Linked DNA regions of Homo sapiens: region 2 is linked to region 1. Evidence: fine-mapped expression QTL. A gene starts in region 1. The other region holds a variant in brackets. All regions are shown on one strand. Distances are from middle to middle. Region 1 holds the start of SERPIND1 (serpin family D member 1). Region 2 has its middle 35 kb from the start of LRRC74B.

The links.
Region 2: its variant is fine-mapped to the expression of SERPIND1 in subcutaneous fat (GTEx, PIP 0.97).

Annotation. Positions count from the first base shown.
Region 1 is chr22:20,772,895-20,775,394 of GRCh38, reverse strand. SERPIND1 (serpin family D member 1) reads right to left here and starts at 1,282. Exons shown (of 5, transcript NM_000185.4): 1 at 1,250-1,282. All of the region lies in intron 19 of PI4KA (phosphatidylinositol 4-kinase alpha), which reads left to right.
Region 2 is chr22:21,079,321-21,082,338 of GRCh38, reverse strand. It overlaps the pseudogene LOC112268300. Among named protein-coding and RNA genes, the nearest start is that of LRRC74B, 35 kb to the right of the region's middle. The variant G/A (reference allele first, on the strand shown) is at 1,597.

The sequences.
Region 1 (2,500 bases):
TATCTCTGATATCTTTTATGGATTGAAATTAAAGATCTGAAGGTAAATCTTCCTGATGTTTTGCTATTTAGTATAACAAACATTGTAGAAGACGTTTAAAAACTATCACTAGGTTGTGATTAAATCCAGATTACTGTTTGAAGAGAAACAATATATTTTAAAGATAAATCATTCAAAAGTTTGTTTTGCTTTTTTTTTTTCCTGGGAACTTCATATTGTGCTTTCTTGCTAATTGCCAGAGCTGGGTTGGCCTTTTCAGTCACGCATCAGAGCATAACACTTGATAAACCGTCATCCCTCCTGGTGTATGGTCTCCAGGCCCAACAGAGCAGGCAGAATGGGAGAGAAGTAACTGCCTAAAGTTTGGAAAACTTTTTATTTTGAAGTAAGTTCAAACTTCCAAAAATGTTGAAAGAATAGTGTAGTAGAACAACTCCTGTATACCCGTACCGAGATTTACCAGGTTTAAAATTTTGGAACCTTTGCCCTGTCATTATCTGTGTGTGTGTGTACGTACGTGTGTGTTCTCACAGGCATGCACATACACATTTTTTCTTCTAGACCATTTGAGAGTAGGTCTCCTATATCTTGTTCCTCTAACATTTTTTCTTTTTTCTTCTTTTTTTTTTTTTTTTTGACGGAGTCTAACTCTGTTGTCCAGGCTGGAGTGCAGTGGCACGATCTCCGCTCACTGCAACCTCTGCCTCCCGGGTTTAAGCGATTCTCCTGCCTCAGCCTCCTGAGTAGCTGGGATTACAGGCGCGTGCCACCACGCCCAGCTAATTTTTGTATTTTTAGTAGAGACTTGGCTTCACCATGTTGGTCAGGCTGGTCTTGAACTCCTGACCTCGTGATCCACCCGCCTCGGCCTCCCAAAGTGTTGGGATTACAGGCGTGAGCCACTGCACCCGGCCCCTCTAACCTTTAATACTAATACTTCAGGGAAAATACCCAAGAGCAAGGATATTCTCATACATAATCACAGGACAGTTATCCAATTCGATTAATTTAATATAAGTACAATATTTTCATCTATTCCACAGCTCCTATTCTAAGTTTGTCAACTCTCCCAACAATGGAACTGACACAATTTTATAATAGGCACACTGAAAAATGAAACCATTTCCCACTTCTAAAACAGTGTAGAAAGCTTCTGAATTCTTAGTTTGCTAGAAAAATGAACCAGTTGCCTATCCGTAAACACCAAAAATAATTTATAATCAGCAGAAACATTAGAAACCCAACTTACCTCTGTGTTTCTGAGAAGTGGCGCTTCAGAGATGAAAGCAGCCAAGGTCATCAGTGGGATTTTGATGTGAACTTTGGTGCTGGGCTGTTGCTGCATATTTTCCAAAGTAAATAAGTCCCAATCCAAACACCAGGCAACCAGCTTGGTCAGCACAAACCCCCTCAGCTGTGCCTTTGATAACTGTAGAGTGGCTTGCAGCTCCTCATCTCCAGTTCTTAGAGCTGACACTTTGAGTATATGACGGTTACTGTGTTAGCATGCACACATAGCCTTGGTGCAGGAGCAGCCCCTCTTGAGGTCACCACATAAACAAGGCGCTCTTCAGGCCTCTGGGGACCAGGCTGCATTGAGGGTAGCTGAAAGTAGAGACCATGCATCTGCCTCCAACTGTGTCCTCTCTTCTGGGATGATCACAGCATCTGCCCTCCACCTGCTCTCCAGGACTGATGTGGCTGGCTCAGCTACTAGGCGGGTGTCCCTGTCCTTCCAAGAGCTCGTTCCTCAGTGAAAGGTGGAGGAGAGAGGACAAAATTAGTGGCTTACAGAATAAGGGGATTGTGGCATGGACCTTTCTTCAGTCAAGGGTTGCTGTGTTTGTTGCCAGTAGGTGCAGCCCAGCACTCCTGTCTGTTGTGGGACAGATAGGACTATTACTGAGCAGTGCCTCCCAAATTCAGGGCCACTTAGGCATTCGTGGGGATCTCTGAGGCTGTGATACATTTTGTGTTTATGGGTGTTTGTTTGTTTGTTTGTTTGTTTTGAGACAGAGTTTCGCGCTGCTGCCCATGCTGGAGTGCAGTGGTGCGATCTCAGCTCACTGCAACCTCTGTCTCCCAAGTTCAAGCGTTCTCCTGCCTCAGCCTCCTGAGTGGCTGAGATTACAGGCGCACACCACCATGTCCAACTAATTTTTTGTATTTTTAGTAGAGACGGGGTTTCACTATGTTGGCCAGGCTGGTGTTGAACTCCTGGAGTGAAGTGATCCTCCCGTCTCGGCCTCCCAAAGTGCTGGGATTACATGCGTGAGCCACCACGCCTGGCCCTATGTGTTTTTTGAGACAGGGTCTCACTCTGTTACCCAGGCTGGAGTGCAGTGGCGTGATCTTGGCTCACTGCAGCCTCAACCTCCCGAGCTGAAGCAATCCTCCTCACCTCAGCCCTGCAAGTAGCTGGGAATACAGGTGCACACCACCATGTCTAGCTAACTTTTGACTTTTTTGTAGAGACAGGGTCTCACTATGTTGCCTAGGC
Region 2 (3,018 bases), 310 kb before region 1:
GGACTGCTTGAAACCAGGAGGGAGAGGTTGCAGTAAGCCAAGATCGCATGCCATTGAAATCCAGCCTGGGTGACAGAGCGGAACTCTGTCTTAAAAAAAAAAAAATCAATGAATGTAAACACTTTATTAAACTATTATACAATTTAAATTTTTATTAGAGAAATGTATTATTCACATCCACAACTTCTTTTTTTTATTTTTTGAGATGGAGTCTTGCTCTGTCACCCAGGCTAGAGTGCAGTGGCACGATCTCAGTTCACTGCAACCTCCGCCTCCTGGGTTCAACCGATTCTCCTGCCTCAGCCTCCAGAGTAGCTAGGATTACAGGTGCCCGCCACTGCGCCTGGCTAATTTTTGTATTTTTTGTAGAAATGGGGTTTCACCATCTTGGCCAGGCTAGTCTCGAACTCCTGACCTTGTGATCCACCTGCCTCTGCCTCCCAAAGCACAACTTCTTAAAGTCCTTTTTAAATGAGTATAATCCATAATAAATATGCTAAAATTATTACTTATGTTTCATAGGGGAAAAAAACTATGAGAATCCTATTAACCCAAGCTATATCCTTATTATGCTTATTTCTTAAACATTTGCATGTTCAGATATGCTTGGTGAATACTGATCATTCATACCAATAGTGGTAAATTTCAGCATAATCTTTTTTTTTTGAGACGGAGTCTTGCTCTGTCGCCCAGGCTAGAGTGCAATGGCATGATCTCGGCTCACTGCAACCTCCGCCTCCTGGGTTCAAGCGATTCTCTTGCCTCAGCCTCTTGAGTAACTGGGACTACAGGCGCCCGCCACCACACCAGGTTAATTTTTTAAATACTTTTAGTAGAGATGGGGTTTCACCATGTTGGTCAGGCTGGTCTCGAACTCCTGACCTTGTGATCCGCCCACCTCAGCCTCCCAAAGTGCTGGGATTAGAGGCACAGCTCACTGCAACCTCAAACTCCTGGGCTCACATGATCTTCCTGCCTCAGCCTCCCAAGTAGCTGCAATGCAATGGCATGATCATGGCTCACTGCAGCCTCAATCTGGGCTGAAGTGATCCTCCCACCTCAGCCTCCTTAGTAGCTGAGACTACAAGTGCATGCCATCATGCCCAGCTAATTGTGTGTGTGTGTGTGTGTGTGTGTGTGTGTGTGTGTAGAGATGAGGTGTTGCTGTGTTCCCTAGGCTGGTCTCAAACTCCTAGGCTCAAGCGATCCTCCCGCCTCAGCCTCCCAAAATGGTAGGATTGCGGGCATGAGTCACTGTGTCTGACCAGCAATTCCCATGTTTTATAGAAACACCATTCTCATGCAGCCCACAGCGGCCAGCTTCAGAGCCAGGTGAAGTTGAACGTGGCCCCCGTGGCCGTCTTCCAGATGCTCAAGTCGATGTGTGCCGGGCAGAGGATGGCGAGCGAGCCCCAGGACTCTGCGGCCGTGTCTCTGCACACGACGAGCGTGCCCGAAGTCAGAGCCGGGCCCATTGTCCCTGCCCCAGTGGTCGGGAGGTGGGGTGGAGAGGGGCAGGGGCAGCACAGCGCCAGCATGGCCCGGAGTGACCACGCCTGTCTGTCGGTCTCAGCCCAGCAGCTGCAGGGCCCATCC[G/A]TGGGCTCTGCTCCCTGGCTTCGCTGTTATCCTTAGGAGGCATGTCCAGGCCAGGTGGACGCAGAGTGCGTGCCCCACGGTGCTCCAGGTGGGCTAGGGCTCCTCCTCCTCAGCCTCTCCCCACCTCTTCACTCATGCCTCCATTCCACAAAGTCAGGAATCAAGACGACTTTGGGCTAGGCGCAGGGGCTCATGCCTCCAATCCAAGCACTTTGGGAGGCCAAGGGGGGAAGGTCGTTTGAGGCCATGAGTTTGAGACCAGTCTGGATGACAGAGTGAGACCCTGTCTGTAAAAAAAAAAAAAAAAAAAAAAAAAAGATTTTTTTTTTTTTTGAAACGGAGTCTCGCTTTGTCGCCAGGCTGGAGCGCAGTGGTGCTATCTCGGCTCACTGCAACCTCCGCCTCCCAAGTTCAAGTGATTCTCCTGCCTCAGCCTCCCAAGTAGCTGGGACTACAGGCATGCGCCACCAATCCCAGCTAATTTTTTTGTACTTTTAGCAGCGACGGGGTTTCATCATGTTGGCCAGGATGGTCTCGATATCTTGATCTCATGATCTGCTCACCTCGGCCTCCCAAAGTGCTGGGATTACAGGTGTGAGCCACCACACCCAGCACCCCCAAAAATATTTTTAAAAGACAGTTTTGGGCCAGGAGCAGTGGCTCACACCTGTAATCCCAGTACTTTGGGAGGCTGAGGCAGGCGTATCATTTCAGGTCAAGAGTTTGAGACTGGCCTGGCCAAAATGGTAAAACCCTATCTTTACTAAAAATACAAAAATTAGCTGGGTGTGGTGGCACACGCCTGTAATCCCAGCTACTCTGGAGGCTGAGGCAAGAGAATCAGTTGAATCCAGGAGGCGGAGGTTGCAGTGAGCTAAGATCACACCATTACACTCCAGCCTGGGTGACAGTGAGACTCCTCTCGAAAAAAAAACAACAGCACAGTTTTGATCCTGTCTTGTGGCATTACAGCCTCCAGGAAAGTGCCGAGGGAGCAGGGCAGGCAGAAGTCTTCCTGCCACCCCCTGCCTGTACCCCACTTGGGCCCAGGTCCTATGCAGGGGCTTGACCAGCCCTGGCCAGCTTCCCTCTGAGGATTGCAGGACAAGAGTCAGAGGCAGAACTCCCAGGGTACAGAGGCCTGCGGGGCCTGAAGGGCCTCCTCTCTCCAGCATGGTGACTGGGGCTGAGCAGATGCTGAGGCTGAGAGTGTGTCATGGTGGAGCCTCCGTCTCTGCTTTCCTCCCCACATGTTGCTTCTGCTCCTGACGGCTCCCTCTGAAATGCAGCAAAACCTCCCCGGCCACTGGAAGGAGGCCCAGAGCTGGCTCCCCACCTGGAAGCATGAGGACACCCACACAGGCATCCTGAGAAGGGGCGGAGAGCCGGCTGCCCCCATGGGGGCAGGGCCTGGGCACCCAG